Regions from separate parts of the Homo sapiens genome. Here region 2 is linked to region 1. The links come from fine-mapping of genetic effects on gene expression. A gene starts in region 1. The other region holds a variant in brackets. All regions are shown on one strand. Distances are between the middles of the regions.

Region 1 (5,381 bases):
AGTTATGGAGAGGTTCTCATATATCTACCTTGATATTTCATTTAGGAAAAAAAGCCAAAATGAGAAAAATTTAAAAAAAAAAAAAGACTAGACAGAAAATGACACAATGAGGCATTATCTGGTAATCTTCCAAATATCATAGCTTGGTATAATAATAGTTCCTTAAATATATTACACAAACATCATAAGAATATTGTTCTTCCAATATTTTTTGTACTCCAAGTAATGAAAACATTTCCCTTGAAAGCTAAAAAGGACAGATGTGATATTCTCTTTATACAATTTGAACTAATTTAATATGTTTGATAAAAGTTATCTATGAACTGTGACTATCAAAAAAGGTCACAGATAAATAATTCAGAGATGAATTCTGATTGGCAAAATACCTCAGCATCTGGGGGCCAACAGAAATGGGGAGGAGGAAGCGAACAGCTTTCCAGAATATGTTGATGACATAATCTGCAAGGTAAAAGAAGATGACCCCCACTGTGACCAGAATGGGGCTAGCTCAGAAGGCTGAAAGGGGGCAGCTAGCGATGGGTATGAACACTCACGCAGAGGCAGCAGGATCAGCAACACAGAACAGGACACATGCATCACCAGCGCGCGCTTCACAAAACAGTACTTTCCCTTGCTCCTGCAATGCACTCTGATATCTTATCTTTCTTTCTCTTGGCTTTCATGTTTTAAAAACTGCTATTTGCAACTCACTAAACTGATCATTAGCCTAATGAGTCACAGCCCACATTTGAAGACAATGGATACAGCATACCCTGATCTATATCCCAGTAGATTGCTAGAAAAGGGAAGGGAGTTGGTTTGGCGTAAGTATTTGTAAATGCTTCCCTAGGTAGTTTTGAGCTATCTTAAAGAATTTGTTCTAGAATGTTGCCAGGATTCAATGTTTCCCTCTTTTAAAAAGTCTCCTGGGTCCATTCTCATCTCTCATACCTGCACAAAGATGACTGTAACCGCTTTCACTACTCTAGGACGTCTGCCATTTGGGTTTTGAACAATCCAGTCCAGTTTCGGGCTTCGAGACCCTCTTTAAAGGGTTTAGGCTGGCCTCACTTTGAAAAGAAAGATACAGACTGGAAGCAACTCTTCCTTTTCCTATCACCTGTTAATATTATCTATTCTTCCATAAACACTGGATGATCTTCCTCATAAGAACGAAACTCCTTGTGGGTACCCCAGCTCACAGTGGCCTCTGGCTTTCCTGACCTTATCCTTGCAGGCCCTCGTCACTCTCCTGCACCTGTTCTTGTCTGTGTACCCCATGCAATGTACCTAAAGGAAACTAGACTCACAGTCCTAGCTTCCAGACCCCTACTCCCCACTATTACTTAACTGGGGCAGTCACCTTGGAAAACGTATTTAATATCGCAATCTAATTTTCTCTACCTGCAAACTGAAAATACTACTGTTTACTTTTGGGGTTTTCGTAAGAATTAATTTATGCATAAGAGTTCCCTTCTCTCGTCTCCCTGGACACATTCCCTCAAGCTTCCTTTGCCTTCAAAACACCAGAGTGTTTCACTGTTGTCAAACTAAATGCAGAGTAGTGGCTGAGATTCTGTGCCATCTAACATGCTGTGGAAACCACAACGCCTCCAAACAGGTTTCTGCAGAGACTACTCTTTGCCTTCCTCAATTAATTACACAGAAAGGATGGGAAAGGCACGGGGCACGGGGCGCGGGGCGGGCGGGGGGAGCGGGGGCGGGTTGCGGGGTGGGGCGGCGGGGAAAGTGTAAAACCCCTATTTCCCTCTAATCAGTAACACGACCTGCGAGCAGGCTCCCCAGTCCAAACAAAATGAATGAGCAACTGTCAAGCCAGGCATCATCTGAGAACCCTGCCCAGTGCATGGAGGCGCGCCCGGGGCCAGGAGCCAGCACATTTCCCCAGCCCAGGGGGGCTCTCTCAGTTGCAGGGCACCAAGGCGGCAGGAGGGCCGCAGCAAGGAAAGTTTTCTCACCAGCGGGAAAGGGTGTGCCTCGGCCGCTGGGGCCCAGCGGAGGGGAGGAAGCCCACCCAAGCCCCGAGCGCCGCCGCTTCCAGGCTTTTCGGACGCCCAGCGGCGTCCACACGCACATCAGCGGGCTGCCGGGAAGGTTTTAAACTTGGTGCTCTCCACGGGGTCCACACTCTTCCCGTGGGCGTCCTCACACCCCAATTCTCCTCCTCCCACCCCATTCTCTAGCCCCTCTAAACTAAAGACTGCCCCCAAACCCAAGCAAGCCCTGCCTTGACCAAAGCTGCACGCGCCCCGCACCCAGCGCCCGGGCTTTGCTCCGCCCTGGGCGCCCTGTCCCGCCCGTGGTTACCGGCTGGCTAGCCCCGGCCCGCGGGCTCGGCCCTGGTTCCGGCTCCTGGCTCCTCCGAGGTGCGCGAGCGCCGCCGCCGCCGCCGCCTCCCACCGCCCAGGGCCGGGCGAGTAGCTCCTAGATCCGAGGTGCGGCGGAGACGCGCGCTCCCGACCCGCAGCGGAGGCGGCGCGGGGCGCCGGAGCAGGGCTGCAGCGCGGGAGCCGCCTCCCCAGCGCGAGAGCCGCCTCCCCAGCGCGAGGCCGCCTTGGCCAAGAGGAGGTGAGCTTTGCAGATCCCTTTCCTGCTCACTTTGCCCCTCCGAGTCCGGGTCAGAGCCTGAGTCAGAGAATTCTTTGCCATCCCGGGCTCTGCAGTGGGTCCCTCGGGTCAACTTTGGGTAACAGGAGGAGCTCATTAGCTGAGCAAGAGGGAGTGGGGTATCATGAATCAAGGCTTATGAAAAATCGGCAGCATTGAGTTCAAGTTCAGTAAGGCCAGAGCCCCCCCATAATGTGCTGCTTAAATTACTACCTCGATTTTAGTTTCTCTTCCTGCCCACTGGTCCAGGTGTCAAAGGGCAGTCAGACGTTCAAACGGGGTCCCAAAGGGCTAGCACTGGGCCGGGAGTAGTTTCAGCATAGCAGGGCTGGCTCATCTCTTCCTCCCTTGAGTCCTTATTGCATGCCAGGCATTGATCTGGGAATACAGGTGCTTGGTGCTTGCATTCTACTAAAGAGACAGGCATAAACATAACAAATAACTAAAATACATAGTATGTGAGATAGTGATGAAGTGCGGTGGACAAAAAAGAAGGGAGGAAATGGGATAATGTTTGGAGGTAGGGGGTGCATTTTTAAATGGGATGGTCAAAGATGGCTTCACAGTGGAGTAAAGATCTAAAGGAGATGAGACAGAAAGAAGTCACGCTGGTATCTGGAGAGAAAGCACTTGCTGTGTGGCAGGCACTGAGATGTTCTTTACTGCACTAGTCATTTCTTTTACTACTCTCCATATGCCATATTAGACAGGTATTGCCACCATTTCCATTTTACTGATGAGAAACTGTAACTTAGGAAGGTTAAAGGAACTGCCCAAGGTCATATGCTAGTCAATAGAGGAGCTTGCCTTCAAGGTCAGGAAGCCTGGTGCCCCAGAACCATAGTTTAACCACCATTATACAGCAGCAGGGGAAATGCAGCACCCATGCAGGCTGGTGGCAGTGTGATGAACTCAAGCTGGTGGTGCCAAAAGAGGATTCCTGGAAATGACATCTCATCACTGATTTTTTTTTAAAAGCTCAGTTTCATTACCACTTGTAAAATGAAATATTTTGAACACCATTTTTCTTCTTCTTCTTTTTTTTAATTTTAAGTTCTGGGATACATGTGCAGAATGTACAGATTTGTTACATAGGTATACATGTGCCAGCGTGGTTTGCTGCATTTATCAACTTGTCATCTAGGTTTTAAGCCCCGCTTGCATTAGGTATTTGTCCTAATGCTCTTCCTCTCCTTGCCGCCCACCCCCGACAGGCCCCGGTGTATGATGTTCCCCTCCCTGTGTCCATGTGTTCTCACTGTTCAACTCCCACTTATGAGTGAGAACATGCTCATTTGGTTTTCTGTTCCTGTGTTAGTTTGCTGAGAATGGTGGTTTCCAGCTTCATCCATGTCCCTGCAAAGGACACAAACTCATCCTTTTTTATGGCTGCATAGTATTCTATGGTGTATGTGTGCCACATTTTCTTTATCCATTCTATCATTGATGGGCATTTGGAGTGAACAGGCAACCTACAGAATGGGAGAAAATTTTTGCAATCTATCCATCTGACAAAGGTCTAATATCCAGAATGTACAAGCAACTTAAACAAATTTACAAGAAGAAAACAACCCCATCAAAAAGTGGGCAAAGGATATGAACAGATACTTCTCAAAAGAAGACATTTATGCAGCCAACAAACATATGGAAAAAAGCTCATCATCACTGGTCATTAGAGAAAACCATCTTTATAGTGTGTGTATGTATCTTCTGCCTCATCCACAAGCAGTTTGATTCTAAATAACATAATTTGACAATCTGTGATAAGATTTATTAATCATTCCCCAAGTGTCCACACCAGTTCCAGTTGCTCATTCCTATTCACAGGGATGTGATTCCTCACCCCTGCAGTAGAGCCTCTGCCAAGTGTCTTCAGGGCATTGTGAAAAAGAGTGACAAAACTGCTGCTTCTGAGGGGCTACGGTGTGAACAGGCCAATTTCTGCCTTAGCTGTCGGCATCAGGTGGCCTTGTTCTGGGCAGAGCATCAATGGCTCCAGACAGAAAACCAGGGCACATTGTACTTTGTGAAAAAGGCAGGTCACTAACCCTTGGTTTCAGAAGCTGAAACTGCAGCATCTGGTGAAACAATGACATCAATAGGATGGCCAAGCCCACATTTCTCTCCTAGATATCTCCACCTCCTCATGGTTGCATTCATTCCTGTCTTCCTTCCTCCACTGTCAGCAAAAATCTTTTGACCTTTCCTTTGTAGGAAAGGTCTTTTCAAACACCACTTGTCCCAAAAAGCCTTCCTCATTGTCTCAGCTACAAACGAACTCTTAATCTAAAATCTGATACCTCTCTTATGGCACCTGACATTTCCTACTTTATTTTAAAATTTAGCCTATACTGTATACCTTAACTCCTCCATAGGCCAAATATTAATTTATATTTAATTTCTCCACAGGTCCTAGCATAATGTCTTCTACCCAGTAGACATTCAATGAGTATATTTTTACTGTTGTTCTTAATAAATTAATCTGCAAGAATACAGCTTCATTGTCTTTTAATTTTGTCTTTTCATTCCAAGATAACTCACAGAAATTTAGTGACAGGACTAAGTTATATGTAGCTATAGCTGTTGTTCATCAATATAAGTTGACAATGGTTTGTCTTGAGGTAAATTCCATTTGCCTTATTTCAAGATTAGAAAACAGAGGCTTTAGAGTAATCTCCCTTAGGTCACAATACTAGTCTTCAAGAGAGCCAGGATTTAAACCCAGCACCGTTTGGCTCCAAAATGAGCTCACC
Region 2 (5,381 bases), 120 kb after region 1:
AAATGCAGTGCATCCAAAGAAGGCAACAGAAAAGTACAGGTTCTGGAAGCCACATGTGGTGGAAAGAAAATGCCTAGTCTATCGGTAATCAATCATTAAGCAATGGTTGCTTTTGTAGTGCCACAGAAGAGTCAATCATCAGACGAAACCAAAGATCAGTCCCTCATTTAATAGAGTGTTATATTATCCGATGAACAACTACAGGTACTATAAATTGCATAAATTAGTCCACAATATAGACTATTTCAGTTAACAAAGAAAAAGGTAACTCATCTGGCAATCTAGCTTGTTAGTTGCATTTCTGTAACTTGCTTTTGCAAATGAAAGAAAAAAATGTTTCTAAATGTACATCAATATAGTTCAGTCAGAGTTAGCACCATGCATTTTATGTCAGTAGTGACCACCATGCCAAACTTTTTTGCGGGGGAGAGGAAGTGTCAGTCATTATTTGCAAGTCATCCAGAATGGCTGGATGCACCACTCAGCTTAAAAAATTGTAGATTAATAAACTATTTGGCATGTGTATGCAAACAATGGAGGTGAGCTCACATCTAAGAAAACTGACTTATTTTGTCTTGTTTCTGAGGAAGAAACTCCTAACTGCTACAAGTATTCAAGCTGAGGGAAGATAACATGTATTCAGGGATGTCACAGAAGGCACGACGATAAGAGTAATGGCTGGAATAAGGAGCCTATAAAACCCTACAAAAGACTCTTAAGTTTGGGCCAGTAAAGCTATCTTTCATATTAAAAAAAAAAAAAAAAAATCTAGGCCGGGCACAGTGGCTCACGCCCGTAATCCCGGCACTCTGGGAGGCCGAGGTGGGCAGATCACGAGGTCAGGAGTTCAAGACCAGCCTGACCAACATGGTGAAACCCCATCTCTACTAAAAATACAAAAATTAGCCAGGTGTGTGGTGTGCACCTGTAATACCAGCTACTCAGGACACCGAGGCAGGAGAATTGCTTGAACCCGGGAGGTGGAGGTTACAGTGAGCTGAGATGGTGCCACTGCACTCCAGCCTGGGTGACAAAGCAATACTCCATCTCAAAAAGAAAAAAAAGAAAAAAATTTAAATGCCCCAGACAATTCTGTGTATCAATACTATTCATAAGCATGTGAATATGATTCATTTATTATAAATTTATAGACTTACCATTTAAGACTTTCTTTTCCTCCTCACGATAGTCTGTATAGTGATTTAGAAAAAAAAGTCAAATAAGAATACTTTAATGTCAATGAGAATGTCAGTCCACATTACTGATTTCAAGATAACATCCCTTCTTTTTTGAAGGGCTTTCTTCTAAGGCCTGAGGAGAGAAACAGGCCAATATAGAAACGGCCTTTGTTTTAAACAAGTAAGTTTCATCTCTGAAGACTGCCAGACCATATTTCTCCAGATGTTTGTCTCTCATTTCATTTGGATTTTTTCTAATTCTTTGGTCACTTTTTTCTAATATCTTGGTTAATTTCTATATGAGCATATGTAAACGTCAAGTTTCATCCGTGTTATCATATTTTAAATTAGTCCAAGTTAACCAGAATTTATTAGATTATACTTCATAAATGAAACACACACATTAACAACTCAAAGAAAGATGCCTTATCTTTCCCTTTTACTGAGTTCAATGCATAAAATGATCGTTATTACAAGTTTAAAATATGTTCAGATTTTTGCATGTATACCCAATGCAATTATTAGTGTTACAAACCCAGGAAAAAAATTAACAGGTATTTTCTTTCAGGATGGCGGCCAACTCACAAAGCTATATTATATTCTAATATCCACAAGTGTTATACCATTATAGTCAAACTAAACACCTCAGCAAGTTGTCAAAATTTAAAAAAAAATGGGATAAGCTAACAAAAAATATTCAAGTAGTCAAATGGAAAGACATCATTTCTTAAGCTGACATCACCTTGTTTTATACAAAAAGAAACTAACGTATTTAAAATCAAAGCTTTCAAATTTTTTGTGTTCCAATATTTCACCAGAAATTCCATAATTAATTACACTTCACTCATCCATCCCAAAATAATAATAATTAAGGAAGCCAAATGACCATCCTTTTCCTTTTCCTCATTTTACCAAAATAATTTTACAGCTGAAAGGAATTTACCACATACAGCAAATTATCACCTGATCTCCTAAAAAAGGCTGAAAATCAGAGGTCAAAGGACTTGAATGAAATCTACCACTCCAGTAAAAAAGCCAAAATTAGATTTGTCTCTCCTGAAACACAGTCCCATTTTTCTTGGCAATCCAGGAGTTAATATTTCCTAAAAGGATAGTAGGCCTAAAAACCATTTAAACTATACTTCAAAATGAGCTTTGTTTATCAACTGCCACATACAAATCTGGCCATTACAGTTTGCAAAGGATCACTGATGTCCCTGCTTGGCCATGTACTTTCATCCAGTCAGTTTTATCTGTCTTTGCTGTTGCAGTTGTGATTATTTGTTTTATCTTAGAAATTCACAGAACATGTATCTATTTTCAGTGTACAATAAGGTCAACAGTTTAATAAATCTCATTTATCATGTAAAACAATTAGTTTTTACCTAAGAGGTTCACAGATTTTGAAAAATTGTCCCAGGTAATTTATTTCTAAGAAGAAAATATTATCTCTTATGATTATTTCTTGCCTGATATGAATAGATTTGAATCTGTCAGAACTTTCTGGATTCTGCAAAATTAGTAGTTCCC[C/T]CCCACCACCAAGTCTTTTTTAAATACAAGAAGTACTAGTAGAAAGAGAACTTCCACTTAAAGAATCTGGGTTACCTTTAAAAATTCTCCTACTCTGTTTTTACAACTCTTTTCAAAAACTGAGTTACAGAAATGGAGGAGACTGTTTTTCACTTTCAAGCATATTTACATCTGAATCATTTTAGTCACAGGAGATACTTTCTTCTCTGAAAAGAAATCTGATGTTTTCTCTTGGTAACTAATTCCATCATTTAGTTGGCTCCATGGCCAATCAAATTTGTATCTTCTCATAATGCTGGTTAAACTGCTTTACTCTGATGAGAATCTTTATTTCCGGAGAGGTCAGAGTCATTTAGAAGGCTGGTGCTGTGATCTAACAGCACTCAGCTCTTCCTTGGTAAGGATCTTTAATTATGACCCAAATCTAGTTTACCTCTGCTGAGCAGAGGCACAGGAGGATACCCTGGAATAAAGAAAGATCCAGTAGGAAGTTCTTTTACCAATATGCTCATTCTTTAATAAACATCTATTGATCATCTTAACAGCGATATTGACATAATACGGACATTGACATACCATTTGGATAAAAAGTTAGAAAAATAAGAAAATATATTCAGTCTGCTTATCATACATAAAGATAATTTGGAAAGAGTCACAACAACAACAACATCAACAGAAACATGTCCTTGGTGTGTGCATGGGAGAGGAAAACAGTAGATGGGAGGCAGAACTATGATAAGGATGCTTCTTCTTGAATCACATGAGTGCAATACTTATTCAAAAAATACCATAAACGGAATTAAAAATAAAGTCAATAGGCTTTTTTTTTTTTTTTTTTTTTGAGACAAGGCCTCTCTCTGTCACCCAGGCTGGAATGCAGTGGTGATATCTCGGCTCACTGCAACCTCTGCCTGGTGGGCTCAAGAAATCCTCTTGCCTCAGCCTTCCGAGTAGCTGGGACCACAGGCATGCACCACTAGGCCTGGTTAATATTTTTGTAATTTTTTTTTCTTTTTTGTAGAGACAGGGTTTCGCTATGTAGCCCAGGCTGGTCTTGAACTCCTGAACTCAAGTGATTCACCTGCCTTGGCATCCCAAAGTGCTGGGATTACAGGTGTCAGCCACCGTACCCAGATGATACGCTCTTTTTAAGATTGCGTGTGGCTGTAAAAGAGGTATACAGGAGGTGTTATTGAAGCACAGAAGAAGAACGTTTCTACTGGAAGAAATTTGAAAGGACTCTATAGAAGAAGTAGTATTTTAGCTAAGTTTTGAAAATGTGTAGGCATTTGTCAGGAGTCCTTGAAGAAAAGCATTCTAGGAAAAAAAAAATGCTGAGCATTAATTGAATGTTTTACAATTATCTTGTAGCTACATTCCTCATTCCCCTTTCTTATTCCAAAAGGTTGGTATTATGTCACCATCAGATAAGAGCTCAGTCTTGTTGCCAGGGATCTTACTCACAAAGTCCTAAATTTACCATTCTGTATTCCCTTACCTGCTTAGCCTTGCCAGAAGACTTCTTGGTTCTGTATAATGTGTTTAATAACCATTTTTTCCTCTAGAAATTCCTCCATATCTCTAAACAGAACTCTTCATAACACAACTTAGACCTGATTCTTTTTTTTAATTAAATATAATTTTTTTTTAATTTTTGTAGAGACAGAGTTTCACTATATTGCCCAAGCTAGTCTCAAAATCCTGGGCTCAAGCAGTCCTCCTGCCTTGGCTTCCCAAAGTGCTGAGATTACAGGCATGAGCCACCGCACCTAGCCAGGCCTAATTCTTGTTTTTGATTTAAAAGTCATACTTATTTCTCAAATCTTACAAAACTTAATTTTTGCAGTTTTAAACTATCTTTACCTTACTTTCTTCTATTCATCTTTGTAATCATCTTCTGAATCATCTTTCAATTTTATACATCTCTCAAACTTCTAGTTCACTAGCAGAATTAAAATGAAGACTTAATAGTTCAAATCCACATATTCTGAAAAATCCGAGGATTAAAAAGCTTTAAAAATACCAGAGTATTAATTTATCCTAGGATCAGTTTTTCCTCCATTATTCATTTAATCACAGCATATGCTGTATTTTTAGAAGTTCATATTTTCTCCCCAAGTTGGCTTCACTTGTCATTTTTTTAATCAACTCTGCAATTTGTCAGTTATTTTCCATTCCTGTCCTATCATCAGAGGGATTACGATTCCTTTCTTATCTGGAATCACCTGTACATGAATATACACATGTTCAAAATTCCTCTTTCTATGAAAACAAAACAAATGCTAACACAAACAAAACATCAGTCAGTCATACCACTACAGAAGACACACTTCCTGTTTAGGTCTGCATCTGCCCCCTAACCAGGGACTTCTTACTTCTACCTCCCATTTTTAATTACCTTTCCCTTAAATCTTTCTGGCAAGAATTACCCAGACAACGGGCCCTATAGCAGAAGGAGCAAATTAAGGCAGCCAGGCTGAGATAGCAAACTTGTCTGTCTAGTAAAGCCCACTTCAGAATGACTCCCAGCCTCCCTCTCTCCACCAGTAACCGTCTTACTTCTCCCCTATCAGTTAGTCTCTGAGCTTGTGCTTTGTCTACCTAAATTGTCTCCATTTTACCAATGAGGAAACTGAGGCTTCTAGAAGAAAGAACTTTGACTGACTTTACAAA

What was found. PIP is the estimated chance that this variant, and not a neighbour inherited with it, causes the effect.
Region 2: its variant is the best candidate, but not a certain one, in a credible set for the expression of MRAP2 in nucleus accumbens (GTEx, PIP 0.60).

The regions. Positions count from the first base shown.
Region 1 is chr6:84,030,831-84,036,211 of GRCh38, reverse strand. MRAP2 (melanocortin 2 receptor accessory protein 2) reads right to left here and starts at 2,440. Exons shown (of 4, transcript NM_138409.4): 1 at 2,329-2,440.
Region 2 is chr6:83,910,225-83,915,605 of GRCh38, reverse strand. RIPPLY2-CYB5R4 (RIPPLY2-CYB5R4 readthrough) reads right to left here. Exons shown (of 18, transcript NR_174604.1): 7 at 1,158-1,190. CYB5R4 (cytochrome b5 reductase 4) reads right to left here. Exons shown (of 16, transcript NM_016230.4): 5 at 1,158-1,190. Among named protein-coding and RNA genes, the nearest start is that of CYB5R4, 53 kb to the right of the region's middle. The variant C/T (reference allele first, on the strand shown) is at 2,709.